Regions from separate parts of the Homo sapiens genome. Here all the other regions are linked to region 5. Evidence: fine-mapped QTL for protein levels in blood plasma. Region 5 holds a variant in brackets. A gene starts in each other region. All regions are shown on their reverse strands.

Region 1 (4,000 bases), not on the chromosome of region 5:
AATGATTGCGAACTCCCCGAAAAGGGCTCAGACAATGCCATGCATAAAGAGGGGCCCTGTAATTTGAGGTTTCAGAACCCGAAGTGAAGGGGTCAGGCAGCCGGGTACGGCGGAAACTCACAGCTTTCGCCCAGCGAGAGGACAAAGGTCTGGGACACACTCCAACTGCGTCCGGATCTTGGCTGGATCGGACTCTCAGGGTGGAGGAGACACAAGCACAGCAGCTGCCCAGCGTGTGCCCAGCCCTCCCACCGCTGGTCCCGGCTGCCAGGAGGCTGGCCGCTGGCGGGAAGGGGCCGGGAAACCTCAGAGCCCCGCGGAGACAGCAGCCGCCTTGTTCCTCAGCCCGGTGGCTTTTTTTTCCCCTGCTCTCCCAGGGGCCAGACACCACCGCCCCACCCCTCACGCCCCACCTCCCTGGGGGATCCTTTCCGCCCCAGCCCTGAAAGCGTTAACCCTGGAGCTTTCTGCACACCCCCCGACCGCTCCCGCCCAAGCTTCCTAAAAAAGAAAGGTGCAAAGTTTGGTCCAGGATAGAAAAATGACTGATCAAAGGCAGGCGATACTTCCTGTTGCCGGGACGCTATATATAACGTGATGAGCGCACGGGCTGCGGAGACGCACCGGAGCGCTCGCCCAGCCGCCGCCTCCAAGCCCCTGAGGTTTCCGGGGACCACAATGAACAACTTGCTGTGCTGCGCGCTCGTGGTAAGTCCCTGGGCCAGCCGACGGGTGCCCGGCGCCTGGGGAGGCTGCTGCCACCTGGTCTCCCAACCTCCCAGCGGACCGGCGGGGAGAAGGCTCCACTCGCTCCCTCCCAGGAGAGGCTTGGGGTTAGGCTGGAGCAGGAAACCGCTTTCAAGTTATGCCATGCTTCCCCTAGGGTGTCCTTTTACGCTGCAAAGTTCCTGCTGACTTTATGGAAGACAGCAAGAGAGAGACAGACAGCGAGAGAGAGGGAGAGAGAGAGAGAGAGAGAAACTTGTTTGAAAGTTTTAGTCATTAACCTTCTGTCTTCATCTCAGAATATTAACGCCCTCATGTAGTCCATACTATCTTTGCTTAATGAACTTGAACTTTTATTATTAGTGGCAAAGAAGTGGTCCCTTAGATTCAGAGTAAGTTGGAAGAAGACGTTAGTCTTCTTAAAACCATTATAATTAGAATATGACATGATAGATTTTTCTAATGTAAATATTATGTGAAATTTTGAATAATTAGGAGAAAAGATCTCTCACACACACACTTCTTAACTGTGTAATGTTTTAATAAAATTTTATTGTTAAAATTATTTCACTTCTCAACTTCAATATACTGTGGAGAATATTGGCAGTATGTTATGTTCTAAAACATATCTAAAGAATTGAAGTTCACTAAATAGGGCTAAAAATTGTGTTTAAAATGTTATTTGGAAAAGAAAGGAATCTCTGTGACTTAGCTTTTTTTTTAAGCTTAGGTTTTGATCAAGTTAATAAGATTTGCATGTAGGTTTTTCTATGACCAATGACTTATTTTCTCTATGACACTAGAGTGTAGAGTACATCAAGATATGAATCAGACATTTATGCAAGGCTAGGAAAAGCCATATTTAAGCCACATATGTGTTTTGGATGTGTTTGAGTAAATGTTTGAACTTCAACCTCCAACCCACAAATAATGAATAGAAGGCTAGGTAGTCTTCTACTTAGTTCCTAGGATACAGAAACATAAATAAGTAAATAAATAGTAAAGACACTAAAGAACAGGTAAGTTGGATAGGAATCTACCCATAAGTATGTTAAAATATATATGTATGTATGTGTGTGTGTGTATAACTTCATCGCTAGAGATACTATGGAGTGCTTTTAAAAAAGTAAACCTTTATTAAAATATAACACATAGAGAATTGTGCAAGTGGTAAGTGCCTAATGCAGTTTTTCTAAGTGAGCACTTGTGAGCTAGCACACAGATCAAGAAATATATTATCGGCACCTCAAGAGCTTCCATCACTACTGTGTCTATGGCCAGAACAATCAGTATTCTGATTTGAACAACATAGATGAATTTTGCTTGTATTTGAACTTCCTATAAATGGAACTTATTCAATTTTTTGCATTTGACTTCTTTCACTGAAAGTTCTGTTGTGAGATTCATCTCTACTGTAGGATATAGAATAATTTGTCCGTTGTCATTGCTGTATGGTATTCCATTGTATGGACACACCACAATTGATTTAATCATCCTAGTTTTGGGCTAGTATAAATAATGCTGCCGTTAATATGGGGACATTTTTATTCTTCCTAGCCCTTTTTATTTTGTCAAAGATTTAATTAATAACAAACATACTAGCAATGAGTTAAATTTCAGGGTTTCCACTAAATAATATATGTTTCTATTTAGAAGTATCCATAAATTTAAATAGTAAAATATTTTTATATGTGGTCTGTACAGGAAGATAGACAAACATGTAGATAATACTAATTTTAGATGATACAGCATTATCAGAAGATAAGACTTCGTATATGTCTTGAACACAGTAAATACTTTATATAGGAAGAATTTTGCTTCCCCTTTCTTTAGCTTCTGAGACTTACTTTATTTTGAAAATGATTGCAAATGGACACTTTGTATTTACACATAGAGTCCAGATGCCCTTTTGTAAAACCAAGGTGCCACTGTAGGAACTAGAAGCACCACAGATATTTATTTCTTTATAATGGGCATTCCACTGGCACTAGGCATCAGGACAGTGTGAAAAGCAAGATAGACACTATTCCTTTCACCATGGACCCATAGTCTAATGGAGAAAGCAGATATTGGGCAAGTAATTGTGTATATAGAGTTGCAAAGAAAGAAACTACTGGGTGACTTGGGAATATAAAAGATTCTGCCATATAGCACCTTATAAGGGAAGCTGCTAGTGCAGTGTTATCATGTGGACCAAAAATCAAATACCAGTACCACCACTTACCTGAGAAATGACTGTGGCCAAGTTACTTCTTGAGTTTTAGTTTTGTCTTCTATAAAATGATAATAATGATATGCATATATCCAAGATGCCCACATAAAGTTTCTGCTTCATATCAACACTAGCTCCTAGCATGATGCTCACAGATAACTAACTTTAGGACAATCTAGATCCAAGTGAATTATGTAAACGAAGTGCTGATGATACTCAGAGGAGGGAGAGATGGCCATCTACCGTCATCCTGGAGGAGGGGTATGACGTTTCATTGTTGGAGATTTAAAATCAGGCATCTTGGACCAAAGAAGTGAGAGAAGGCAAGATTGTGTAGCAAAATAGAATTCTAGATTCTTTTTGTGAGTGCAAAGGGTATGCTGGTAGGCAAGCAGGGAAGGAGGTAGGGATGGGATGTTGTCATTAGTACTAATGTCATAGACATGGGCTTTCCTGGAATGTTCCTTAATGCAGTTAAGCAGAGGCCTGCTCTGCTTCACTCAGGCTTAGGTTTTAACTGATGGCTGAAACTTCCCATCAAGTAGTATCGGAACCATCCATTGAACTTCTCAAAGCTAAGTTCTGAATTAATGTTATGATACTAGGAGTTGGGGTGGAGAAGTGGGCAGGGAGGGGTAGATTTATTTTTTTCTCAGGAAAAATGTCTGGTCTGTCTGTTTTCCTGTAGAATAATGCCTTTGGGGGCTTTTTGTTGTTTTATTGTTATTTTGGTTTCCTCTCCCTCCCCCTAGTGGTTAAGTTTTTTTTTGTTTGTTTGTTTGTTTTTTTGTTGTTTTGTTTTAAGAGAATGAATACTCTGAAGTTTCTAGGAAAATCTGACATACCCTCAATCCAAAACAGTCCTGATCCCTGTCCGTAGCAACGTTCCTGGCCCGGGTCACCTAGCAACCTCCAGCACAATTTCTAATTTCAATCTAGTTTCAAATTTTACTTAAGCTGAAACTACAGCTGTGAAATTCCACTGATTGAGGAAGTAAGCGTTCTGCACCAGATGGTTTATCCGGTTAGTTCTAGAAGGAGAGCTATGGCAGTGCTGATCAA
Region 2 (4,460 bases), not on the chromosome of region 5:
ATTCCATAGGCCTGGGGTTCAGGATGTCGGGGTCTCCAGTTTTCCTGACCCCAGGGCTCTCAGGGCCAGAGTTCTGGGCTCTCCAGGAAGTCCAGTGTCCCTGAGGCCCCCTTCCAGGCTCTCCGACCTGTACGTGGCAATGAAGGACACGGGGCTGGTGGAGTTTGGAGCAGGCGGCAGGGTCCAGGAGCAATCCACGGCGATCGGGTACCGAGAGGCTCGGCATTGCACCCGGGGCAGTGTCAGAGCTGCTGGGGGCCCTGGAGGAAGACAGAAAGAGTGAGCTTCTGGTTTACCCCCAGATTGTCATAGCCCTCCCGTGCGCTGGGCTCCTGCCACGTTGCCAGCCAGCACCAGGTACATGGTAGGTGCCTAATAAAGGCTTTCGGAATAAATAGGTACATGGACAAAAGTCATCTGTCATCTTTTATCCCCACTGCAATCCATCTAGGTGAGGACTACTAGCCCATTTTCCAGATAGGGAAGCTGAGGTTTAAGCATCTACAGAGAGGAACTCGGGTAAGAGAGAGAGATTTTACCGTGTTCTCTCTTTTGTAATTGTTTTTTTTTTTTAAAGAGGGAGTCTCCCTCTGTCGCCTAGGCTGGAGTGCAGTGGCGAGATCTCGGCTCACTGCCACCCCCGCCTCCCGGGTTCAAGCGATTCTTAGCCTCCCGAGTAGCTGGGATTACAGGCATGTACTGCCACGCTTGGCTAATTTTTGTATTTTTAGTAGAGAGGGAGTTTCACCATGTTGGCCAGGCTGGTCTCAAACTCCTGACCTCAGGTGATCCACCTGCCTTGGCCTCCCAAAGTGCTGGAATTACAGGCGTGAGCCACCAAACCCAGCCTATAAATTATTATTATTATTATTATTTTGAGACAAGGTATCCCACTCTGTCACCTAGGCTGGAATGCAGTGGCACAATCATAGCTCACTGCAGCCTCCAATTCCTGGGCTCAAATTATCCTCCCACCTCAGCCTCCCAAGTAGCTGGGACTACAGGCACGTGCCACCACATCTAGCTAATTTTTTAATTTTTTGTACAGATTGGTGGGGTCCGGTTTCACTATGTTGCCCAGGCTGGTCTCGAATTCCTGGCCTCACGATCCTCACGCCCTGGCCTCCCAAAGTGCTGGAATTACAGGCATGAGCCACCATGCCCTGCTGTAACCATTTTGTCTTCAAGGACATGGAGATGTTCTCTAGTGCAAAATGAATGAATGTCGGCCGGGCGCGGTGGCTCACATCTGTCATCCCAGCACTTTGGGAGCCCGAGGTGGGTGGATCACCTGAGGTCAGGAGTTCAAGACCACCCTGGCCAACATGGTAAAACCCTATCTCTACTAAAAATATAAAAAGTAGCCGGGCATGGTGGCGGGCACCTGTAATCCCAACTACTCGGGAGGCTGAGGGAGGAGAATCTCGCTTGAACCCAGGAGATGGAGGTTTCAGTGAGCTGAGATGGTGCCACTGTACTCCAGCCTGGGCGACAGAGTGAGACTCTGTCTCAAAAAACAAAACCAAAAAGAAACCAAAGGAATGAGTGTGACTCAAATTCGCATGTCTGTGTAGCTATGTCTGTGTAGCTCTATGGATACCTCTGAGCTGTGACTGCCAGTCCCTATCACCCACAAGGTGACATCCTTCCACCCCCAATGTGGCACTCTGCCTCTCTGTGCCTCAGTTCCTCCATCTGTACAATGGGAGGGTAACCCCATCCCACCATTGGGCACGGGAGGATGTGATTTCCCACCCCAGACATGATCCGAGGCCAGTCCTCGTGTCATGTCCGTCTGCCTGGGCCCCCCAGTCCCCCAGGGGCCCCACATACCTTTCCTTCCACTGCAGGGCGGGCAGCTGGCCCAGAGGACAAGGGCCAGGAGAAGCTGCGGGGTCATGGCTGCGGCCAGCTCTGCTCTCAGGAGTGGGTGGGAACGTCGTGGGAGACTTGAGAGGGGAGGTGAGGACTTGGGACCTGCCCAGGGGAAAGCCCAGCCCAGGGTCAAGGCCCGCCCCCTCCCCGACTTCCTTCAGGTCTGACTCACTGGTGGGGCTCGTGGGGCCGCTAGGGAGATGAATTAGGGTGTGGAGGAGCCCCAGCCCCCTGGGGAGCACAGGCCACCCCTGCTCGGAAGGCCCCGAGGGTGGGGGCGGGGGAGGAGGCTGTGAAAGGGAGAAGTGGAGACCTGCTGGCTTTTCCCAGCACAGCATGTCCTGCTGGCCTTCCTTCCGCTGCCCTGAAGCGGGGGAAACCCCAGGCAGGCAGGCAGGGGCTCAGGGACATGGAGGGAGACAGAGGCAGAGATGGGGGAGAGAGGCAGAGAGACAGAGAAGACAGAAGGAAGACACAGAGAGACAGGGAGATGACAGAGACAGAGACACAGAGAGAGACACAGATGAGAGAGGCAGAGAGACAGAGACAAGAAGAGGAGGACACAGAGATAGAGGGATACAGAGACAGGGAGATGACAGAGACAGAGACAGAGAGACACAGATGAAAGAGGCAGAGAGACAGAGACGAGAGGAGGAGGACACAGAGATAGACAGGGAGATGACAGAGAGACACAGAGACACAGATGAAAGAGGCAGAGAGAAAGAGACGAGAGGAGGAGGACACAGAGAGAGAGAGACAGAGACAGGGAGATGACAGAGACAGAGACAGAGAGAGACACAGATGAGAGAGGCAGAGAGAAAGACAAGAGGAAGAGGACAAAGAGATAGAGAGACAGGGAGACGACAGAGACAGAGAGAGATACAGATGAGAGAGACAGAGATGAGAGGAGGAGGACACAGAGATAGATAGAGACAGGGAGATGACAGACAGAGAAAGGGGCATGACAGAGACAGAAACACAGAGAGAGACACAGAGATGAGAAAGGCAGAGATGAGAGGAGGAGGACACGGAGATAGACAGGGAGATGACAGAGACAGAGACAGAGACAAAGATGAGAGAGTCAGAGAGACAGATGAGAGGAGGACACAGAGATAGAGGGATAGAGAGACAGGGAGATGACAGAGACAGAGAGAGCTACAGATGAGAGAGGCAGAGAGACAGATGAGAGGAGGACACAGAGATAGAGGGATAGAGAGACAGGGAGATGACAGAGAAAGTGACAGAGATACAGATGAGAGAGGCAGAGAGACAAATGAGAGGAGGACACAGAGATAGAGAGAGACAGAGACAGGGAGATGACAGAGACAGAGAGAGATACAGATGAGAGAGGCAGAGAGACAGAGACGAGAGGAGGAGGACACAGAGATAGAGAGACAGGGAGATGACAGAGACAGAGAAAGGGGGATGACAGAGACAGAAACACAGAGAGAGACAGAGATGAGAGGAGGAGGACACAGAGATAGATAGGGAGATGATAGAGACAGAGAGAGACAGGGGAATGAGAGAGACAGAGACAGAGATGAGAGGAGGAGGACACAGAGACAGAGAGAGACAGGGAGATGATGGAAACAGAAAGAGAAACACAGAGAGCAGACAGACAGAGGAAGAGAGACAGAGGGACAGAGATAAGAGAGGAAGACAGAGATAGGGAAATGAGAGAGACACAGAGACAGAGATAAGGGAGGAAGACAGAGAAAGAGAGACACAGATGGGAAGATGAGAGACAGAGACAGAGAGACAGAGATGAGAGAGTAGGATAGACAGAGATAGAGAGATGGTGGGGCACGGTGGCTCACGGCTGTAATCCCAGCACCTTGGGAGGCCAAGGCAGATGGATCACCTGAGGTTGGGAGTTCGAGACCAGCCTGACCAAAATGGTGAAACCCTGTCTCTACTAAAAATACAAAAATTAGCTGGGCGTGGTGGCAGGCACCTGTAATCCCAGCTACTCTGGAGGCTGAGGAAGGAGAATCACTTAAACCTGGGAGGCAGAGGTTGCAGTGAACCAAGATTACACCACTGCACTCCAGCCTGGGTGACAGAGTGAGACTCCATCTCAAAAAGAACAACAACAACAACAAAAAGACTGATGGGGCAATGACAGAGATGGAGAAAGAGAGACAAAAGAGAGACAGAAAGAAGACAGGAAGACAGAAATAGAGATACGGGGAGATGACAGACACAGAAAGAGAGACAGAGAGATAAGAGAAGACGACAGAGGGCCGGGTGTGGTGGCTCACGCCTCTAATCCCAGCACTTTGGGAGGCTGAGGCGGGCGGGTCACAAGGTCAGAAGTTCGAGACCAGCCTGGCCAATATGGTGAAACCCCGTCTCTACTAAAAATACAAGAATTAGCTGGGCGTTGTGGTGCGCACCTGTAATCCCAGCTACTTGGGACGCTGAGGTGGGAGAATCGCTTAAACCTGGGAGGCGGAGGTTGCAGTGAGAGGAGGTTGCAGTGAGCCGAGGTCACGCCACTGCACTCCAGCCTGGGAGATAGAGTGAGACTCTGTGTCAAAAAAAAAAAAAAAAAAAAAGGCTGAGCGTGGGGGCTCACACCTGTA
Region 3 (4,484 bases), not on the chromosome of region 5:
CTTGGTTTCTTCATCTATAAATTGGGTTAATAATACCTACCAAATATTCATCTTCTAGATACAGCCTCTGGCTTGTTACTTCCCTAACTTACCCTCAGTTCCCAAACCTTTCTGGAAGTTCTAAGCCCCATCAGAAAAAGCTTCAAACACCACCACAGAAGAAGGTCTAATCGGCTCTCCCTCTTGTTCTCCAACTTCACCCTCTCATACTGGCCTTCTTCTAACTCTGATCAGGCAGAAGCAACCTCAGCCCCCTCTTGCTCCCAAAGGTTGAAGCCCCTACTCTGCTTTTCCCTGGCTGGTATGCCTACCCCACCTTCACCCCAGGACTGGAGCCAACCTGTCCCCATGTAGACAGATCTCTCCAAACACAAAGCCTGCATCCTGCCCTCCTGCAGTCTGGAACTCCCCAGTGCTCTGTGCCCTGAGGGGAAGTGCTGGAGGCTGTGCTGTTGCTACAGGGCTGCCCTCAATACACCAGTCTCTTCAACCAAGGCCCTTACCATGCCTTCCTATCCTGTTGTTCCCTTTCCTGTCTGTTGCATGCTGATCTATAAGTGAGGATGGTAAAGATGGCTTTCCCTTCCAGAGTCACTCAGGAAGCTACACAGTATATATTATCTGCAAAGTGCCACTCAAGAGCACTCTTTGGGACTTGGCTTCTGAGCTCAGAAAACTTCCTCCTCAGGAATGGTTCTTCATGCATTGAGGATAAGTGTGATGTTCATAAGGTGCCAAAACTCAATGAGAGAAGAATAAATGGCAGCATGGTGCAACAGAGAGAACACAGGCCTGGAGTCTGAGGGGCTCTAGTCCAGCACCGTCTCCGCTTCACAGAGTGGCTACTTCTCTGAGGATTTCTCAGTGTTCTCATTTATGAATTGGGCTTAGCCATACCACCTCAGAGGATTGCTAGGGAGATCAAATAAGATGAGATGGTAATGAAAATGGAATAAAATCAAATGAAATGAAATGGCAATACCATTATCATTAACCTCTTGGGGACTTACCCCTGGGATGGCCAGGCTATAGACTTCATGAGAGTTGAAACTGCTGCCATCGTATTCAACACTGTATTCCTAGGGCCTTAGCCCTCTGCCTGAAATGGAGCAAGCTTTCCATAAATATTTGCTGATTAGCCACCAGTTGAGTTTCCTGTCCTTGCAATGAGGAGTTACCACATGATCATGGTAAGCCTTTTTTCTCATCAGCTACAAAATGCTACCTACCCATAGCATGGGGTGGGGAAGGTATTAACTTTTTTTGTTTTAATTAAAAATGAGACCAACTTTAAAGAGATGAAACTGGCTTTCTTGTGTCTCATACACTAGGTGTGAAAGGCACTTACAAAACAAGAATTCAAAAAATGTTCTAAGTAATAACAGTTCTAAGTAACATCACCACAAAAACATGTGTGCCCTCTCAGAGTGGCTACTTTGTAAAAGTTAACCTCAATAGATATATTCTTGAACATTTATATTAAAAAAGGAAACAGTGGCCAGGCACGGTGGCTCACACCTATAATCCCAGCACTTTGGGAGGCAGAGGCAGGTGAATCATGAGGTCAGGAGTTCAAGATCAGCCTGTTCAACATGGTGAAACCCTGTCTCTACTAAAAATACAAAAATTAACTGGGCATGGTGGCAGGCACCTGTAATCCCAGCTACTCAGGAGTCTGAGGCAGGGAATTGCTTGAACCCAGGAGGCGGAGGTTGCAGTGAGCCAAGATCGCACCACTGCACTCCAGCCTGGGCGACAGAGCAGGACTCCATCTCAAAAAAAAAAAAAAAAAAAAAAGGAAAGAGTCCCATAACTTTGTAGGCTCATAGAGACAAAGAATGTTCACCAGGACCCCAGCCTGTACCAAGCACTGCTGAGCCCATCACAATGGAAAGAAGCTTCCCTGTCAAGAGGACTCAGCTACAGAAGGTACCAAATGTGGTAGGAGGGGCCTGTTAATTAGACCAAGGCAGTCACACATCAGCAGGTAAAACAGAGACAAGAGGAGGTGTGGCTGGGCTGGGCTGGATCTTGGATGAATCAAGCCTTCCCATAGGGCAGGATATCCTGTCTAAAACAAGAGCCTTGGTTAAAACCCCTATAAAAGGTTCTCATCACACTGACCTGGTACTCCTCACACCACTTAACAGCCACTTGTTTCATCCCACCTGGGCATTAGGTAAGTCCCCTCATAAGAAACCTCTTTCTCATTCTCAGTGTCTTGGTGATCTGAGCTCATAAAACTGGGGCAGTCAGGTATGGACTATGCATCCTTCAGAGCTAGCTGTGAGCACTGGGCAAACCAACGCTACCGTTGGGAAACATGCTCTCCTGAAGCAATCAGGCTTTCTCCTCCTCCCTGAGGCTGGCCTGGGAGCAGCTCCTCTCACTGGGAAACTGTGTGGGCAGCGGCTATGGGGCCACCCATGTGCCTTCCTGGATCAGCAAAGGTTTCTTTTTTCTAAGGCTCTGGAAGCTTCTTTGCAGTGCTGAGAGTCTATGGGATCAGAATCAGTTTACTTATGCCAACCTAGACAATAAGATCAAACTGTGTCATGGATGAAGGGGTTTACATGATTCCCCTCTCCTACACCAGGGTGATATTTAGGCAAAATATGTGTAGATTTTTCTAAGGAATCTAAAATGTAACTAAAAGGTCATCTTATTATTTTATTATCTAAAGGTCAGTGGTTAAAGTCTGCTACATGGTTTTAAAAAAAAAGAAAGATATTTTTCATCTATGTTGAGGAAAACATCCCCAGTTTTTTACCTTGATGAAAAGTTTGCCTGAAATTGTTGGTTACCAGGTCCTAGAAAGGGTTTCTCCTGAACAGCCCACCTTTTGCTATGACTTACTGAGTCCTCATGGCCACACTAATCTGCTTTTTCTAGAACTCAAGTCTCCTTCCTTCCTTTTTTCTCTTTCTTCTCCTACCTATATCTGCCTCGTCCCATCCTCTCTCTGGCTTTCCAGCTGCTACAGGCTCCATCTCCCCTTGCATTTGAGACTTGTCATCTTTGATACCATCTCCTCCTTTGGGTCTCTCCAAGGCTTCTGCTTAATGAATCTTCAAGTCTCTTTTCCTTTTGCTCATGCAACCAAACCCAGGCCTCACCTCAACCTACCTCTAGATTTCTGGCTAATGAAAAAGAAAAGCTTTCCCTTTGATTAGGAACCAACTCATAGGTCACCAGAAATCTGGGCCTGATGGAGCCACGTGCCTGTTGGGCAAGCTGACTTCTCTGATAAGTCTCAGGGCTGTGGACAGAGGCGACATGCAGAGAAACTTGGACCCTCAGAACTGGAAGGCCTCCCACCCAAAGAAGGTTCCCCCCTCCTGAGCATTCCCAGCAGGTGGTAGCCCAGTTTCTTCCCACTTTCCCAAAAAAAACAAGAAGGGAGGGCTGTGTCCCTGGAATTTCTGCTTGGCTCCCATCCAAGACAGGGGTTGACTCACAGATGTATTTACTTCCTTTTGGTGTTCCCGATGGGACCCTAACACCCTTGTGATAAATAAATAAATCCTGTCCACAGGGTACATTCTAGAAAGCCCATTGCATTTGGGTTAAGGAAAAATGGATCCTAGGATTTCTTGGCTCCTTAAAAATTGTGTGGCCTAACTTCTCTGAGCCTGTTTCCTCACCTATAAAAAAAAGTGGAAATAATAAGGATTAGAAGAGATGATGTACAGGAAAGTGATTATATAGGTGTACAAAAATTATATGTGTGTATATGTATATAATAGCATAATAATTATATTTAATAAGGAGCACTTAATATAAGCCAGGCATCTGCCAAGTGCTTTTTATGAATTATGTCTTTAAATCTTCACAATAATCCCACAGAGTACTAATATCACCTTCAATTACAATGAGTAGTAAACTGAGGCATGGAGAGGCAAAGCAACTTGTCCCAGCTCACACCATACTTAAGTGGTGGGGCCAGCATTTAATCCTGACTCAGGAACCTGCCTCCATCCTGTGTGCTCCTCCTTCCCATACATAAGATGCATTATGTAGGAAAGGACAAAGGAAAACTAAAAACAGAGCTGAACGTGCAAGGAAAGACCTAGCAGCAGACGTGCTATAAAGGAAATAGCTGAGGTTGATTATGGAGCCTCCAAGGGAACTTTTCATCTTTTCCAGGTTGACTTCAAAGATGCCTCAGTTACTGCAAAACATTAATGGGATCATCGAGGCCTTCAGGCGCTATGCAAGGACGGAGGGCAACTGCACAGCGCTCACCCGAGGGGAGCTGAAAAGACTCTTGGAGCAAGAGTTTGCCGATGTGATTGTGGTACGGTGTGCTGAGCCGGGTGGAGAGGGGACATAGCAGGAGAGTGAAACCTGGTTTGCCTGCAGAGGCCTTGCCTGGGGAATTTGAGGAGGCAGCAGCTAAACCCAGGCCTGCCGGGACAGATGGCAGCTGTGCAGGCAGAAAAAAAGGTGAAAGAACCAGAGATGGTCATGGGAGTTGGCAAGTC
Region 4 (4,000 bases), not on the chromosome of region 5:
CATCTGCCATACAGTAACTTAATTGTTCCATTCCAGTCCCCACATACAGCGGTGCCTGAACTGTTGACCCGTACCCCCATGCCTCATTCATTTTTATCCCTTTACCTTGCATTATTCTCTTCCATCGCACTCTACATTGTTTATATTCTGCATTTTATGCTTATTTATGTTTATTTTCTGTTTTCCTTCTCTATAACAGAGACTTTCACTGCTGAGTCCCAAGCATCTAAAATCTGCACAAAGTAGGTGTCCAGTGAATAAAGTGGAACAAATGAGCAGAAAATTGTAATGCTTATTATGTTAATTAAGCAGGTCTCAGGAGGGCCTTTCCTAGCCAGTCCTGTGTCACTCAGCTTTGAGATACTGAATCTATTTCAATCAAAGTATAATCATAGCATATAATTTACACTTTTCAACAATTCAACTCCTTTTCTCCCCAATTGCTACAATTATAACCACTTAACTAAAACAGTGAACTATTACAAACTCACATCCCCTATTTTTTCCTTTAAGGCCTGACTCTAACTACCACCACCTCCCCCCATCCCCATCCCTTGCCACCTTAAACCTCCTAGATAGACACTGCCAATCAGTTTAAATTTTCTAGACATTTTTATTCTGTCTGCTCTAGTTATCTACTGATTTTTCTTTCACACTTGTTAAAAACATGAATAACATAATCAATATCATAAATCCAAATCACAGAGTTAATGAGAAGTTATATAAACATTAGGCTGTTGATTTTCAGTTAATCTTCCAAAAGGACTGTGAAGGCCTATAAAACAATTTTTTGAAAAAGTACACAGATTTGCTCTCTCTTCCTTAGTGAAAGCCTGAGTTTTAAGAACAAAGACACTAACAGAAAACATATGGAAAAGATCAGTAACAAGATGGAATCTTGGCTAAAGTGTGGTCTGCCACGTTTTTCATACCAATGTCTCAAATAATAGACTAGATTTTTACAACTGCCAAAGCATCACTTGAAACACTGTATACTTTTCTTAATGCAAAGTTTAACAAAATAAATCTTGTGAGTTCTTTGTAAAAAGCTAATGGAAAACACTTTTTTGAGGAAACAAAATGAACTCCAGGATTCACTTTATCTTATTAGTTTGTAAAAGCTTAAAAGAATTCCCCCCCAAAATGAACTCCGAATCTACTGCCAAAAGACACAAGTCAACTCTCTGTTTAGAATATGAGAACAGTGTAAAAATTAAACATTAAAAACAGTTAACTGTTACTATTCAGGAGAGATAGCTCTATGAAATGAAGAAATTTTCTAAATCTACAAAATAAAGGCAATAGCTATTGAGTAACATAAGCTTTTCATCCCATTTTATTCAATACTACAGAATTATTTTGTGCAATAGTAAAAACAGGCAAATTGAAGATACACCTTTGGAGTGCAACCAACTGACTAATTTTATCTGAAAGGATATTAGAAGTCATTCTAGTGGGTACATCTGCCAAAAAGAGGAGAAATGAGATAGCTGATAAAAATGATGATAAAAATGAAGATGTAAGCCTTTGTATAGAAAAGTCGTATAGTTAATCTGTGTAAGCAATGACAATCAAGTGCATTTTAAAAATAAACAATGCGAAATGTTATGTTTCTAATCCTGATTTCTTGTTTTAACAAATAGAAGTACTGATATGAACCTAGGTGTTGAATAACCAAGGGACTCAAGAAATTTTGAGTTCCAGGCCAGGCGTGGTGGCTCATGCCTGTAATCCCAGCAATTTGGGAGGTGGAGGCGGGAGGATCACCTGAGGTCAGGAGTTCAAGACCAGCCTGGCCAACATGGTGAAACCCCATCTCTACTAAAAATACAAGAAATTAGCCAGGCATGGTGGCTCATGCCTGTAATCCCAGCTACTTGGGAGGCTGAGACAGGAGAATTGCTTGAACCCGGGAGGTGGAGGTTGTGGTGAGCCGAGGTTGCACCACTATACTCTGGCCTGGGCAGCAAAGCAAGACTCCATCTCAAAAAATTAAAAAAGAAATTTTGAGTTCCACCTTAAGTTGCTGAGACTCTGGAGTTCCCTGTCACAGTGGGCCTTAATTTGAAGAATTCTTTGGCATGAAAATGAAAATAAAAACAGTAATCAGTACATGCTGTTTCATTTAGTTTTGTTTGCCTTTCACATTAGAGGAAATTCTTGCCACACCTCAAACCAAAATTAAGGGGAAAAGAAAGAAGTAAGCCACATAAATCTGACCAAGAACACAAGCATCTTAATTTGAATCCACAAAGTTTCATGTAATGAAAAGAAATACATAATTTTAATTCAACCCGAGTGTTTTCCAAGAAGATTGTATTTGCTTAAATTGCTACAGTAATTCAAGAGACAGCCCTGTCTGGACACAGAGTTACTGTGGATTTTTAAGAGACTCAGTTAAAGAATTTAGGAATTTCTGATTCATTTAAAGGATTTACAAATTCATCAACCCCTGAAAACTAAAGCAAATTGAACAGGTATGATAATAAAATAATTTTCAATTTTTTAAGAATGTATTCCTACTGTTAAAATTTAAAAGTATATTGGATTTTTTAATATTAAAATAGACTGCATCTATTACAAAAGCACAATTTTTGGAAGCAAAATCTGGTAAAAAAGTTATGTTAAACTTTTGATTAGGCAAAATGTTCAAATAAAGTAGTATAATGAGTTTAACTTTCTCATTTAAGATTTACCCAATAAAAAATCTTTGTTTAGATTTTTTTTTACTTTGAATGAAAGGAAAGATTCTCAGGTTAAAGGAATCAATCTCTTTCTCTTCCTTAGGTCTCTTTTTTTCTATGAATTATAAGTAACAAAGAACCAGCTAATGCCTTTGAGGCATACAGCTGAGCAATGCTAGTGATTCCGGTTGGGGGGTTGATGGGCATTTGTACAAATTTCACTCAAGATTTTCTCCAAATTTCTCTACTGACTAAATCCCTGATATAGAATGTTTTTCTTTTCATTTACTTCTTTCTCAAAGGGAAAATACAGATGCTCTATCTAGTCTATTGAAGGATCTAGTTACTTTGGGTTTTAGTTAATTACGATTTAAATGTATTATGGCTAAAAATAATTGAGGTAATTGTATTTTTAATAGCAAAAAAATTTTATAAAATTAAAATTTAGAACTTTTTTGGAAAAATCTAAATTATATGCTAATATTTGCTTTCTTATATGCTAGTTTCTATGTCATACAAATAAAAACAATTATGTCTTTAACATAATAAAATGTTGAGGATTTTACTTTAAACTTTTCCTGAACAAGTAAATTATACCTCATTAGTAATTTCAATTGAAACTTTTCTTGATGAACACGAGTGCTTTTCTCCAAGTAAGAGAAATATTATGACACAGATGGTTTTATTGCTATAATATGAAAAATTCACATTGAAAACTGGTAATATATATATATTACTTTGCTCCAAACATTCTTTTTCACATTTGTTCTTTTCCTGCTACACGATGTACTAGGAAAGTGAGGAATACAGTATATTGTGATGAAGAAATATTCAATAGAAAAAGGAACAGTCAAGCTCTCATGAATATGTTCATTTGAAGAAATTATCATAGTGAAATAAATGCCTAGGAATAATCAACATTAGTAGAGAGAAGCATTTGCTAGCAAGCCTTAACCTATAACTTATTAACTTATTCATTCAACACACCTTTGAGCACTTATAACACTGCATTGTATTAGATTCTGTTAAAAGATATTAGGAAATGAGATGATCAACAATGAATTATACAATATTGCTGTGAGTTATCCTATAGAGAACAAGGCATACATTGTAGAGTATGAAAAGCAGAAGTAACAAAAATATGCTTAGCAAATGACTCAGAAGAGATTAGTTGGGGAATGAAAAATTTGGATAAAATAAGAGATTGTTGTAACAGGGGAAATTATCCTGGGGAAAGAGCAAGAGGCATAGAAAATAATGAGCATATAGATGAAAACAGGATGGATTTCAAAACAGAAAACTGCACTTAATCAAAG
Region 5 (4,281 bases):
ACCCCATCCACAGCTGACCCAGCCTCTGTCTAGGATCTAGAATCATAACCCACACAGGCCCACTGCAGGACAGGTGGCAGAGGAGCTATTTGGGACAGGAGTCAGTTCTCCCTTTCTGCTATCCATCACTTATAACCCCACAGGCCAGAGGAGAGGTCCTGAGAGAGGTGACACTTCAGGGACCAGAGGCAGCACGAGGGCTGGCATCTCTCCTTCCAGCCCAAACTGCACAGCCCCAACCAGGTTCCCAACACGTGTAGCAGTCATCAGCCATTCCTTAACAATGAATGTGGTACCTGGTTAGTGCCAGCCTTGGGAAGGAGGGAGGGAGGTAAGAGGGGCTTGGTGATCTCTGGAGGAAGAGTGTTGCCTTTGCTGTGGTTGGGGAATCGATCCTTGGCTATGGCCTACCCACTCCCCTGGCTGAAGAGTGCCAATCATTACAAATCAGCTTCAGCAAACTGAAACAAACCTTCTGGTGCCTTGGGCTTTGGGGCCCTCTGTTTTCCTGCTCCCAGTCTGCCTGCCATACGTTAGACAACAGAAGCTGCTGGGCTGGGCAGGAGCCCTGAGCTGCCTGGTGGATTGGTACCAAGTGGGGCCAGCCAGGGCTTCTACTGACTCGCTGTGCAACCTTGAGCAAGCCCCACTAGGAACGGCTAGATCAGCAATGCCCCAAATTGTTGAATCGTGGTGATCACATTTGGATGGACAAGTTAGGAAACTTAGCTGATTCTCTGAGATACTTCCCACTTCCTCATACATTCTACAATGAGATGCCTCTCTTCATGGGCCTGGGGAAAGGATGAATGAGTGTGGCTGGACTTTTGACCTTTAATGTCCCTGAGCAGTTCTTGGCCCTTGGGGAGAAGTAGGGGGAGGATCTGGCTGACTCAGCCCCAACCGAGGGGTAGCAGCTGCAGCCCAGCCAAGCAGAACACCCTGGCCCTACAGACCTGTGTCTGAGCAGGCTTTGGAGGAAAGGCCACTTCTGAGTCCTCTGTCTCAGGAGAAGCCAGGCCTAGGTGCTTGACCTGGTGATCTGAGCTGTGTTTGTCCTAGTATGGGTGGCAGTCACCTCTGAACACACTGGCCTTGGCTTAGAGGAGGCTTGTGACTTCAGCTGTTCCAGCTGGGGCTGGATGCTGGACTCTGATTCCCTCAGAGAGACAGAAGATCGGGCAGAGGTCAACCAGAAGGCCACACAGGGCAGTGGACAACAGTGGAGGGTATACCAAATAGAAATAAAA[C/T]GCAGGAAACCTCTCTGAATACTGCCCTTGGGGACCTCAGGAGGGAGTGGGACTGATTGGAGACAAAGAGCCAGAAATCATCCCCTGGAGATACTCAGACACTGTATTGTTATTGGCGCTGTCCTGTGAGGGCAGTGTCCAGGCTGCCCTGCTTGTCATATCCATGCCCTGGCTCTGGCCCCGGTGAGCACTTGTGCTGCATGAGGAAAGGAGGATCAGGTGGGGTCAAAACCAAAGCATCGAGGCTGGCACTGGCCAAGACAGACTCTGGCAGGGAGGGGAGTGGAAGGAAGGAGCCCCAAACCTGGAGTGAGACCTTTGACTTTCTGATGATGTGGCCAAGAACTAGGAGTCACCTGGCCAGCACAGCCAAGAGTGGGGCTGGGGGCGCAGCCAGCTTTAAGGTGTCAACACCTGGCCCTTGCGGGGAAAGAGCCTTCAGCAGCCCCCACGGCCTGGAGCCTGGGTTTATTGGAGGGTGCTTTCTTACCCTCTGAACCCAGTGGAGGAGGGGGCAATGGGATATTCCTGCTCTGTATGGCCTCTGGGTCAGCTTTTTGTTGCAAAATCCTATCCCCCGCTGCTAGATTCTTTGAAGCAAGGGAGAAGCAATAGCCCAGCCTCAGAATGATTCTCAGGAAAGCAATTCCACTGCCAGTGGACTGGGTGCCAGGAGGCCTAGGTCTGGATCTGGGGCTGCCACTAATGACAGGAAAGTGGGCTTATCCTCAACCTTTCTGAGCCTCAGTGTCATTATCTGTAAAATGGGGATGATAATACCAGGTAGAGTTGCTCTGATGACTGGAGACCATGGAGCGGAGTGTTTGGGAAATGGCAAAGATTTGTGAGGGCTTCGTGCTTTAGAGATTTGCTACCCTTAACCACCAGCATCAGCTCACCTGGGAATCTGTAAGAAATGCAGAGTCCTAGGCCCCACCCCAGATCTCCTGATTTTAACAACATTCCCAGGTGACTTGGATGCATGTTAAAGTTGGAGAAGCTGCCCTAAGTGACAACCCTTTGCCTTTTCAGGACTTTGCCTCTTTCCACAGAGCTGCAGGTTCTGTCTAGGCTGCTTTTACTGCCATGGGGGCTGCCTGGTCCCTGAGTAAGCAGTGGGTAGCCCTGGATGGCTGAGGGGCTGGGGAAGCCAGCTGGGCCAGACCAGGAAGGAGCCTGAGGCACAGCACCAAGGCATGGGGTAGGGTGGGCTTTGAGGCACGGCCTCCCCATGCCCAGACCCAGGCCCAAACAGGAGGCTCCTGTGCACCAGCAAGTGCAGCAAAGCTGGCTGCAGTGACAAGGAAGTCAGAGGGAGGGCTGGTTTGCCTCAACCCTCGCCCTGGATGTGGCAAAAGATACCACACCGAAGGAAGCTGTAGGGGATCTGGGACTTAGTCAGGCTAGCTAAGGGCACTGAGTGATTACAGGGCAAGGCCACAGAGCGGCAGGAAGTTGTAAGTGCAGGGGCCAGGCACAGTCTGAGTGGAGAGCCATGATGGCACTCATCCCTGGCTGGCTCCTGGGCCCAGGCCCTTGCTCAGAATACAGTGCCCAGGCCCGCCTGGGCATTGCCTTAATTCCTGTCTGAGGCTGCCTTCCGTCATCCTCCTCAAGCTGACTGCTATCAGCAGGAGAAGGGAATGCAGAACCACCCCCACCCCAACTCCAGTGTCTCCAGAACTGAGCAGGGACCCTCCCCATGACGGAGACAGACAACCCAATGGCAGGGCCTGGGGGAGTTCTAACCTCCCGTGCCCAAGCCTGACTTCCCTTCCCTCTCCAGATACTGAGGAAAGTGGGTTGGAGGTGGGCCATGAGGGTGGGGGACAGGGGGAGGGAGAGCCATTTCCTAAGAAGAGCCCAGGTTGTCTCAGCCCAGGGAGACTGGTTTCAGGAGCTGTTCCTTCAGAAAGGACGATGGAAATGGAAGTCACAGCAGGGCTGGGGAACTGGGGACTGGTTAGGTTGGACCCATGGGTGCAGCACCCTCCAAACTGGTGTCAGAGCCTGCAGATGAGTCCCGGGAGGAGCGGCCCTGCAGGAAGCGGATGATCTTCTCAATGGTGGCCTCCTGGTATTCGTGGGACCACCTGTGGGCACAGGAGCCAATGTGGTTCAGACAGCTGGGCAGAGGGAGCTGCTAGTCAGCTGTTTGCCCACACTCTGCCTGTCATGGTGATTTGTACCCTACCCCCCTGGTCCCAGGGCCCTGGGGCTCACTTGATACCGTTGAAAGTAAGCACAGCCTGCATGTCCTCAGGCAGGACCTGGGGCTCAGGCCACTCGAAGCCATCAATGATGGGCACAATGTTCTTGCCGCAGCTTAAAGCAGTCACAATCTCCTGGAGAAAGAAAGGAAAGGAGGAAGATACCCCTGTACCCATCTAGGGACCCTTGTAGCCAGGCAGGTGCTGGGAGGCCCACTGGCCCGAGGCTGGGCCCAGGGCAGGACACCAGTCCTGATGTCCACCTTGATGTCTACCTTAACCCTTGTAGTGTAATAAAAAATAAATATTTTTCCTTTGCCCAGAGTTCCTGGCACAGAGCTGCTAAAACCCTTGGAATCTCTTGAGTGATGAGTGTCTTTGTATGCTAAAGAGATGATTCCCCACTGGGGGCCCGGGGGGTGCTATGGGGGTAGCCTAGATAGTTTCAGGAAGAGGGCTGGTCACCAGGGAGACCAGGGCATGACTAGAGGATTGGAACTTTCAGCCCCACCTCCCAGCCTCCAGAGAGGTGCTGGAGATTGAGTTCAATCACCAATGGCCAATGATTTAATCAATCATGCCTACATAATGGAACCTCCATAAAAACCCCCAAACAAGGGGTTTTGAAGAGCCTCCAGGTTGATAAACAGGTGTAGGTGCTGGGAAGGTGGTAGAAGGCATGGCATCCACACCTCCACCCTCCATACGTAGAGATCCTATGTATCTCTTCCATTTGGCTATTCTTGAGCTGTGTCCTTTATAACTGTGAAATTAAATAATTCAGCTGGGCATGGTGGGTCACGCCTGTAATCCCAACACTT
Region 6 (4,484 bases), not on the chromosome of region 5:
GGGGGCTACCACCTCCTCATTACCATCATTAACTAAAACATCAAAGATTGAGAAACTTTGTGAACACAAGGAACACGAAGATAACTGTCCCAGAAAGCTAAACCAAGACAGTAACTGTGCTTAAACTTACATCATGGCTTTGAGCTTCCTAGCAGCCAAAGCAAGAAGGGAATATAATCACTGGCCAAGGTTAGGGTGACGGAGCAAAGGAAACACATTTATGAATAGAAGCACACTTGTTCTGGATACCAGTGAAAGAGGGATGTACTGACTGAATCTTACAGAAGGGACATGATACACCATTTGTTTCTGCACTGACTACATGGGGGAATCCTTTGATTCTCACATAAGCAGGGGTCTTAATCTTGGGACTGCCTGCCCGAAGGGGTCATTCCCAGCTCTAACAGAGAGGTGGCTGAGAGTATGGAATGTTCCATGCCAAGAGCAGGGAGGAAGTAAGGACAGTAGATTTAACCACTGGAGAAGGGAAATTCATAGAGAGGCCTTTGGTATTGCTGGCAAGAGTGTGAGCTCACAGACAACGGACCTGGGTTTTAAAAAATTCTCATTTAAAATCTTAAATTTAGGCTGAGCGCAGTGGCTTACGCCTGTAATCCCAGCACTTTGGGAGGCTGAGGTGAGAGGATCACCTGAGGTCAGGAGTTAGAGACCAGTCTGGCCAATATGGTGAAACGCTGTCTCTACTAAAAATACAAAAATTAGCCAGGCATGGTGGTGGGCACCTGTAATCTCAGCTACTCGGGAGGCTGAGGCACAAGAATCACTTCAGCCCAGAATGTGGAGGTTGCAGTGAGCCGAGATCGCACCACTGCACTCCAGCCTGGGCGACAAGAGTGAAACTCCGTCTCAAAATAATAAATAAATAAATAAAACCTTAAGTTTAATAACTACTGTATTAGTTTCCTAGGGCTGCTAGGAAATGTGTCTTCTCTCAGCACTGGAGGTCAGACACCTGAGACCAAATTTTCAGCAGAGCCATGTTCCCTTTGAAGATTCTGGGGAAAAGTCCTTCCTTGCCTTTTGCTAGCTTTTGGTGGCTGCCATCAATCCTTGGTGATTTTTGACGTGTCACTGCATCCCTCCCATCTCTGCCTTCGGCGTCACGCCACATCTTCCCCGTGCTTCTCTCTGTGTCCCTGTGTCTGAGTCTCCCTCACCATTCTCTTATAAAGATACCGGTCATTGGATTTAAAACCCCTGTCATCCAGTTCAACCTCATCTAACTAATCACATCTGCAAATCAGGTTCATTCTGCGGTTCGGGGTGCACATGGATTCTGGAGGGGGCACTGTTCAACCCACCACAAACACTCAGCTCTTACTCTATGCTGGGTACTGTCCTAGCGCATTGCAGGTGCTCACTCAACAATGCTAGGAGCTAGGAACTATTATTATCCCCATTTACAGATGAGGAAACCAAGGCACTGAAAGGTAAAGTGACTTGCCCAAGGTCACACAGCAGTGAGTGCCACTGTAGGCTGCCTGGCTCCCACGTCCATGGTCTCTACCACGCCTTTCCCAGCTACTCCACTCCCGGCTGAGGGATTCTGGGCAAGTCACTTCACTTCTTGGAGACTCAACTCCTCTGCCTGTAAAGGGGACAAATAGCACCTACTTCGTAAGCTTGTTGTGGGGATTTACTGGACACCTGTGGCACGTGTAAAGTGCCTGGTACACAGCCAGCACATAGCAGGTGCTCAGTGAACGGAAGCTCGTAACAGTCATCATTGTTAATGTCTCTATTATTTGCAAAGGCTAGGGCAAGCCTGGGGGCTGGAGAAGGAACTCTGGAGACAGGATACCTGGGTTCTGGTCTTGGCTCTGCCCATAGACTTCCCTGAGGTCTCTGGCAAGTCACTTCCTCTCCTTGGGCCTCAGTTTTTTCCTGTGAGAAATGGGCCCAATCAGGCTTGACCTGCTGGCTCACAGAGCTGTGAGGTCCAGATGGCATGACTCAGCAGAAAGGCCAGGTCGCTCCCCATCCTCGCATGCCCTCTGTGGGGGACTTTTGGGGGGCGGAGCCCAATCCTGGTGCTCCAGGGCCCTATTGTGCTTGGCCAATGCCTCTTCTGAAGCAGCCATCCCGGCCTCTTGGTACTGCTGACCCCAGCCAGGCTACAGGGATCGATTGGAGCTGTCCTTGGGGCTGTAATTGGCCCCAGCTGAGCAGGGCAAACACTGAGGTCAACTACAAGCCACAGGCCCCTTCCCCAGCCTCAGTTCACAGCTGCCCTGTTGCAGGGAGGCGGTGGCCCTTCTGTTGCTAGACCGAGCCTGTGGGATATACCAAGGCAGAGGAGCCCATAGCCATGAGGAGCCTCGGGGCCCTGCTCTTGCTGCTGAGCGCCTGCCTGGCGGTGAGCGCTGGCCCTGTGCCAACGCCGCCCGACAACATCCAAGTGCAGGAAAACTTCAATATCTCTCGGGTAAGGCTGCCGCTCTCTGTGGTAGGGTGGATGTGGTGATGGGGAGTCCAGGCAGATGGGCCCTGCTGGGCAAGTGCGGCCTGTCTCGGGGTCTCAGGCTTCCACTCAGATCATCTGGGATTATGGGATCCTTTGAAGGTACAGCTCTATCCCCTGCCATTCCGTGGGTCTCTTGGCTGACATTCTATGAGTCAAACATCCTCACCTTCTGCACTGTCCTCGTGGGCTCCAAGGGGAACCCTTGTGTTAATGGGAACCTGCTCCAGAGAAGGCTTTGTCCTGCCTGCCACTGCCCTGCAGCCCCCGTGCAGACACCTAGCTTTGCCCAGACCTCCCAGCCCTTCCTTCTCTAATGACTCCCCTCTCTCTGTGGCATCTTTCCCTTAGCTCTTCCTGTGTCCCCTGCCCACATCCTGGCCTGACTGTGGACAGACACCTGGGGTGGCACAGCGTGGGCATGTGGCCAGCAGCTTTTGGGTTGGGCATGTGGGGCTTATGGGAAGAGGTGAAGCAGGACAGAGATTAGGGTTGGGAGACATTCAGAGGCTTGGGCACAAGGAGAGACCTGGACTGGGGCAGGACACTCTCCTGTGAGTGTGGAGTGCCAGAGCTGCCTTCCAGCCCCCACTCTGCCCTAAATCCCGGGGTGGCTTTGAGAATACCCTTGCCCACCTGGGGCTGTCTCCATGTCTGTATGAAGGGTCTCAGAACCTTCTAGCTGTGGTGTCATGTGGGTTTTGTTTACTTTTAGGGACAAGGAAAGGTCGTGGCAGAGGGGCAATGAGGAGCAGGTCCCTGTGGCAGTCTGGGACGCAAAGGGTGTGGGGCACATTGGCCTGTTCCGTAGGAGCCTGAGGGCTCCTTCAGCTGTCCCGTGCACTTTCAGGAGGAAGAGGAAGCAGGCCTATCCTGAATGACCCCATCATGTTCATTATACTTTTGAAATAATTCCTAACATGGGGCTGTGGGCTGCCTTGCAAGGTGGGGAGCACCCCATCATTGGAGGAGTAAAAGACAGGACTCCAGCTCTTGGGGAGCAGTGGTTGATGGAGCTATGGACAGATCCCACATCTTGAGAGAGTTAGCCCTTCTGCAGGGCAGGTTGGGACCCCAGCCGCACACCTGCTTCCTGGGTTCGCTGTGATGCCTGAAACGCCACTCTTAGGGATCTGGCCTCCCTTGAAGGTGTGTGGCCTCTGATTAGTTGTAAGACATTATCCCTTAAAAGGATAAGTCATTTTGAGGAGAAGGAGGAGGAAGAGGAGGAGGTGGAGGGTGGGGAGCAGATGTCAGCCAGGTCTGCTTTGAGGTCTGAGACTGATGCAGACCCCCAGAGCTCACCTGCCTCCTAGATCTATGGGAAGTGGTACAACCTGGCCATCGGTTCCACCTGCCCCTGGCTGAAGAAGATCATGGACAGGATGACAGTGAGCACGCTGGTGCTGGGAGAGGGCGCTACAGAGGCGGAGATCAGCATGACCAGCACTCGTTGGCGGTGAGCACTAGGGTGGGGCTGGAAAGCTGAGAGAGACCCAGAGACCCACAACCTTCCCAGCCCCGTCCATCCTGGGAAGTTGCAGATCTCTGCTTCCAGTCAGGACCTTCCCGCTGAACCCCAGATCCCTCTACGCTCCTCCACCAGGACGGCCCTTTTCAGGTGTCCTATCTATTCCTCGAGGGCAGTGTCCCAGCACTGTGCCTGTTCTGCAAACTGCTCCTCCCCCTTGGGCATTCCTTAGCCCAGTGTGGGTACTTCAGCCCCCCAGGGACCCAACCTGGGAACTGGGCTCCTCTCTCCCCTGTCACCCATCATCAAGTCCTGCCCATTCTCCTCCTAAATCCCCCCCAACCTGTTCACTTCTCCCCTCTCCACTGCCACCATCCTGGTCCAAGCCACCTCCCTTTCTTTCCTGGTTGTCTGCCACAACCTCTCTACTCTTTCCTCACCTCTGACCTCCACCCTTCCACCCCATCCCCTCTTCACCCAGTAACCAGAAAGACCTTTTGAAAACTCACATCTGCTCGAGACCCTTCCATG
Region 7 (4,000 bases), not on the chromosome of region 5:
GCAATCCCCTTACCTGGCTATCCATCTTTGGAAGGACAGTAGACCCTAGGATGATGGTGGCAGAGCCGAGAATCAGGAGGGGGTTTGGGACTCTGGGATCAACCAGTGAATAGGGCTGGATGGCTCACCCAAGCATGGGACATTGAGGACAGGGCTGGACGTGGGAGCTTAGCAGTGAGTCTGGAGCTTGGATGTCCCGAAACCCCAGCTTCCCGTCACCCCCCATCATACCTCCCACCCCCTCCGGGAAGGGAAATTACATTTCCCCATTTTAGCAAGGGGTGGCGAGAGGGAAGAATGAGTGAACACAAAGCTGAAAGTACAAGCAGGACGGAAAGTGAAACCGGGCACAGCCCCCAGTATAAGACCCCCCCTACCCAGGAGATGGCTGACCAAAGAGGCTGGGCCCCGCCATGGGCCAGACGGCAGGCGACCTTGGCTGGCGTGAGTTTGAAGCCAGGGGTGGGGGGCTTGGTTGAGTTTGGGCAGAGAATGGACGAGCTTGGCTGGTGCAGATGGGGGGTCGAGAGCTGAGAGCAGCAACTTGGCCAAGACTGAGGATTCGGCTGGCTGCTGCATGGGAAGGGAGGCTGGCATGACTGGGTGGGGGCCTGGGGCAGTGGGGTGGTGGTCTGACCCAGGGCTGGGCAGAGGATGAGAAGGAGGCCTTGGCTAGTGGGAATGGGGAGGGTTGGACCAGCAATTTGACAAGGACCAGGTCTAGGCAGATAAATGAAGAGTTTGGAGTGAATAAGCAGAAGCCAAACAGCTTGGCTAAGACTGAGAATGGGGCCGGCTGGAGGAAGAGCAGAACGAGGTGCTGGCACAAGTGGAGCACTGGGACCAAGATGTCAGCAGCCTCACTGGGTCAAAGGTCTTTAGTTTGATGTTGGAAAGAGGTCCAATCTGCGGCTGGTGGCTGCAGAACTCAGGGGCTAGAACCAGAGCAGTAGGCAGTGGAGAAGGTAACATGCCACGTAGGGCAGGTAGGGACCAAAGGCTGGAGGATGGAGACAGAGCCTTCAAAGGCCAGAGCCAATGACCCAGGATCAGCTGCAGAGGGTAAGGAGGGGGTCTGGGGTCTCCAGAGGTCAGGTTGGAGATGGCACAGCTCACTTACGGTTGGGCTTGATCCACCAGGGCCTGGGGGCACCCACCCTGTCCCCAACATTGAGCTAGGAAGAACCCCACTCTGCCTTAAGTCTCCAGGATGTCAGAGGGTCCGAGTGGCCCCAAAACCAGGGAGTCTGAATGCCAGAGATCTTACGTTAGGCATCGCCCACCACATCTGCAAGCCCACGAGGGAGGTAGATGTCCCTAGAAGCTCCCCTTCACCTTTATCAGGGGACATTTCGAAGAGCAGAGCCCAGGGGTTAGAGATTGAGAGAGGACAGGGAAGAGGCAGGGAGAGAAGGGAGAGCAGGATGGACTTCGGGCCAGTTTTGGTTTGTGTTTCGAGGAGAATTGTGTAACTCTTGTGCTTGCTAGATTTCCTCTCCCTGAGGGGGAAATTGATGAATGCTGCCCTCTTCCTAGAGCGCCCATCCGCTGCCCCTCTTTCCAGGAAAACACAGGTCAGGAAGCACACTCGGAATTCAGCCATTCTGGGCTGGGCGCAGTGGCTGATGTCTGTAATCCCAGCACTTTGGGAGGCCAAGGCAGGCGGATCACCTGAGGTCAGGAGTTGGAGACCAGCCTGGCCAACACGGCAAAACCCCTCTCTACTAAATATAATAAAAATTAGCCAGGCGTGGTGGCTACTCAGGAGGCTGAGGCAGGAGAATTGCTTTAACCTGGGAGGTGAAGGTTGCAGTGAGTCGAGATCGCGCCACTGCACTGCAGCCTGGGTGACAGAGTGAGAATCTGTCTTAAAAAAAAAAAAGCTCCCATACTGTGGATTCGCCCCAGGCAGGTTACCCTGCTAGGATCCACCTGCCGTGGTGGAAACTGGACAAACCTGTCCTTTTGACTCCCTGGAATAGAGCCTCTGGCATTGCCAGCCCATCCCTGGGGACCTCATGGCCAGTTCAAGCCATCAGAGCCGCTTGGCTGAGCCCAAAGAATCCTTGCCAGAACATGGTGTGCCCACTCCTGGGGCAGATGGCTGCCTCCCTCTGCATTCTCTGGGGAAAACCCATGGGCTCTGCATTTGGAAAAACCTGGAATCCAGTCCTGGCTTCCCACCTTCTGGCTATTTGACCTTGGGCAAGTCAACCTCACTGAGCCTCACCTGCAAATTGGGGAGAACAATAGCACTGAGGCTGCCACACGTGGTTGTGCAGGTTGCTCACTGAAAAAGGCATTTGGCCAAGGGAGTTTATGGGGGTCAAAATCCAGTCTCTGTCCCGGCACAGTGGCTCATGCCTGTGATCCCAGCAATTTGGGAGGCTGAGGCGGGAAGATCTCTTGAGGCCAGGAGTTCAAGACCAGCCTGGGCAACATAGTGAGACCCTGTCTCTACAAAAAAATAGAAACAGTTAGGCACAGTGGTGTGTCCCTGTGATCCCAGCTACTTGGGAGGCTGAGGCGAGAGGATCACTTGAGCCTAGGAGTTCAAGGCTACAGTGAGCTGTGATCACACCACTACACTCCAGGCTGGGTGATAGAACAGAACTCTGTTTCAAAAAAAAAAAAAAAGGATCAGGCTTCTGGTCTTTTTGCAAAAGTGGGCACACCATGCGGAGATGCCATATGGGGGCCGTGCTGGCTGCATCGTGGGGTTTTGTTTTGTTTTGTTTTGTTTTGTTTTTTTGAGACAGAGTCTGGCTCTGTCGCCCAGGCTGGAGCACAGTGGTGTTAGCTCACTGCAGCCTCTGCCTCCCAGGTTCAAGCGATTCTCCTGCCTCAACCTCCTGAGTAGCTGGGATTACAGGCATGCACCACCACGCCCAACTAATTTTTGTATTTTTAGTAGAGACAGGGTTTCGCCATGTTGGCCAGGCTGGTCTTGAACTCCTGGCCTCAGGTGATCCGCCCGCCTCGGTCTCCTAAATTGTTGGGATTACAGGTGTGAGTCACCGCACCCAGCCTCCATTGTGGTTTTGAGGAGGCAGAGGAATGATGCTGGTCAAAGTGCCTGCACCGTGCTCACAGCTAGCACAGGCTCAGAAAAGGCATGTTCCCTTCCTTCTCAAGCTCTCTCCCTGTCTTGCCACCCTCTTCCCATCTCTCCAGGGCTCAGCCTGTTGCTGCTTCCCTTGCTCCTGGTTCAAGCTGGTGTCTGGGGATTCCCAAGGCCCCCAGGGAGGCCCCAGCTGAGCCTGCAGGAGCTGCGGAGGGAGTTCACAGTCAGCCTGCATCTCGCCAGGAAGCTGCTCTCCGAGGTTCGGGGCCAGGCCCACCGCTTTGTAAGTCCCCCTAATGCAGCTGGCGCTGGAGATGGGCAGACCCCCAATCCCTTCTGGCCCCCACTAACAGACCTTGCCCCCCAGGCGGAATCTCACCTGCCAGGAGTGAACCTGTACCTCCTGCCCCTGGGAGAGCAGCTCCCTGATGTTTCCCTGACCTTCCAGGCCTGGCGCCGCCTCTCTGTGAGTGAGGGCTGGTGGAGTGGGGCGGGAAGCTTGTGATAGGCTGGGGCCAGGGTGCAAGATGAGGCTGGAGATTGAGCTGGAGATGCATTGGGGATAGAACCTGGATAAGGCTGAATATGTCATTGGACATAGAGATGAAAGACAGGCATGGTGACTTACACCTATAAACCCAGCACTTTGGGAGGCCCAGGTGGAAGGACTGCTTGAGGCCAGGAGTTCAAGACCAGTCTGGGCAACATAGTGAAACTTTGTCTCTACAAAAAAAAATTTAAGAGTTAGCCAGGCATGGTGGTGTACACCTTTGGTCCCAGCTACTCAGGAGGCTGACATGGGAGGATTGCTTGAGCTCAGGAGTTGGAGGCTGCAGTGAGTTATGATCCTGGACTCCAGGATGGAGAACAGAGGGAAACCCTGTCTCAGAAAAATAAATAAACTGCCAGGCGTGGTGGCTCATGCCTGTAATCCCA

Which allele goes with the higher level. Alleles are on the strand shown, and positions count from the first base shown. The strength of an association depends on the size of the effect and on how common the allele is.
For the plasma level of the protein whose gene starts at base 615 in region 1, C is the high allele of the variant in region 5 and T is the other (strong association).
For the plasma level of the protein whose gene starts at base 1,928 in region 2, allele T in region 5 goes with a lower level than allele C (strong association).
For the plasma level of the protein whose gene starts at base 2,130 in region 3, allele T in region 5 goes with a higher level than allele C (strong association).
As copies of T replace C in region 5, the plasma level of the protein whose gene starts at base 2,208 in region 4 goes down (strong association).
In carriers of allele C in region 5, the plasma level of the protein whose gene starts at base 2,239 in region 6 tends to be higher than with T alone (strong association).
With allele C in place of T in region 5, the plasma level of the protein whose gene starts at base 391 in region 7 is higher (strong association).

What was found. PIP is the chance, under the fine-mapping model, that this variant and not a neighbour inherited with it causes the effect. The UK Biobank Pharma Proteomics Project read protein levels with antibody pairs (Olink). The fine-mapping took linkage between variants from a reference panel, not from the people measured, so its PIPs are less certain.
Region 1: TNFRSF11B starts here. The variant in region 5 is fine-mapped to the plasma level of the TNFRSF11B protein (UK Biobank, PIP above 0.99).
Region 2: it holds the start of EBI3, and the variant in region 5 is fine-mapped to the plasma level of the EBI3 protein (UK Biobank, PIP above 0.99).
Region 3: CRNN starts here. The variant in region 5 is fine-mapped to the plasma level of the CRNN protein (UK Biobank, PIP above 0.99).
Region 4: OMD starts here. The variant in region 5 is fine-mapped to the plasma level of the OMD protein (UK Biobank, PIP above 0.99).
Region 6: AMBP starts here. The variant in region 5 is fine-mapped to the plasma level of the AMBP protein (UK Biobank, PIP above 0.99).
Region 7: IL27 starts here. The variant in region 5 is fine-mapped to the plasma level of the IL27 protein (UK Biobank, PIP above 0.99).

What each region holds. Positions count from the first base shown.
Region 1 is chr8:118,948,500-118,952,499 of GRCh38, reverse strand. TNFRSF11B (TNF receptor superfamily member 11b) reads left to right here and starts at 615. Exons shown (of 5, transcript NM_002546.4): 1 at 615-708. The coding sequence starts at 679. It also overlaps a transcript of COLEC10 not described here.
Region 2 is chr19:4,226,991-4,231,450 of GRCh38, reverse strand. EBI3 (Epstein-Barr virus induced 3) reads right to left here and starts at 1,928. Exons shown (of 5, transcript NM_005755.3): 1 at 1,834-1,928; 2 at 128-260. The coding sequence starts at 1,900. RefSeq lists enhancers at 154-655, 1,619-1,708.
Region 3 is chr1:152,411,909-152,416,392 of GRCh38, reverse strand. CRNN (cornulin) reads left to right here and starts at 2,130. Exons shown (of 3, transcript NM_016190.3): 1 at 2,130-2,179; 2 at 4,147-4,297. The coding sequence starts at 4,160.
Region 4 is chr9:92,422,679-92,426,678 of GRCh38, reverse strand. OMD (osteomodulin) reads left to right here and starts at 2,208. Exons shown (of 3, transcript NM_005014.3): 1 at 2,208-2,477. The region is part of intron 5 of CENPP (centromere protein P); the gene reads right to left.
Region 5 is chr17:28,395,219-28,399,499 of GRCh38, reverse strand. SARM1 (sterile alpha and TIR motif containing 1) reads right to left here. Exons shown (of 9, transcript NM_015077.4): 8 at 3,474-3,595; 9 at 1-3,343. The coding sequence ends at 3,214. SLC46A1 (solute carrier family 46 member 1) reads left to right here. Exons shown (of 5, transcript NM_080669.6): 5 at 1-4,281. Among named protein-coding and RNA genes, the nearest start is that of SLC46A1, 8.9 kb to the left of the region's middle. RefSeq lists enhancers at 915-1,004, 1,769-2,452, 3,136-3,819. The variant C/T (reference allele first, on the strand shown) is at 1,251.
Region 6 is chr9:114,076,055-114,080,538 of GRCh38, reverse strand. AMBP (alpha-1-microglobulin/bikunin precursor) reads left to right here and starts at 2,239. Exons shown (of 10, transcript NM_001633.4): 1 at 2,239-2,446; 2 at 3,799-3,941. The coding sequence starts at 2,330. LOC107987120 (a long non-coding RNA gene) reads left to right here. Exons shown (of 3, transcript XR_001746905.1): 3 at 1-599.
Region 7 is chr16:28,503,225-28,507,224 of GRCh38, reverse strand. It overlaps IL27 (interleukin 27), which reads left to right and starts at 391. Exons shown (of 5, transcript NM_145659.3): 1 at 391-444; 2 at 3,175-3,347; 3 at 3,432-3,530. The coding sequence starts at 414.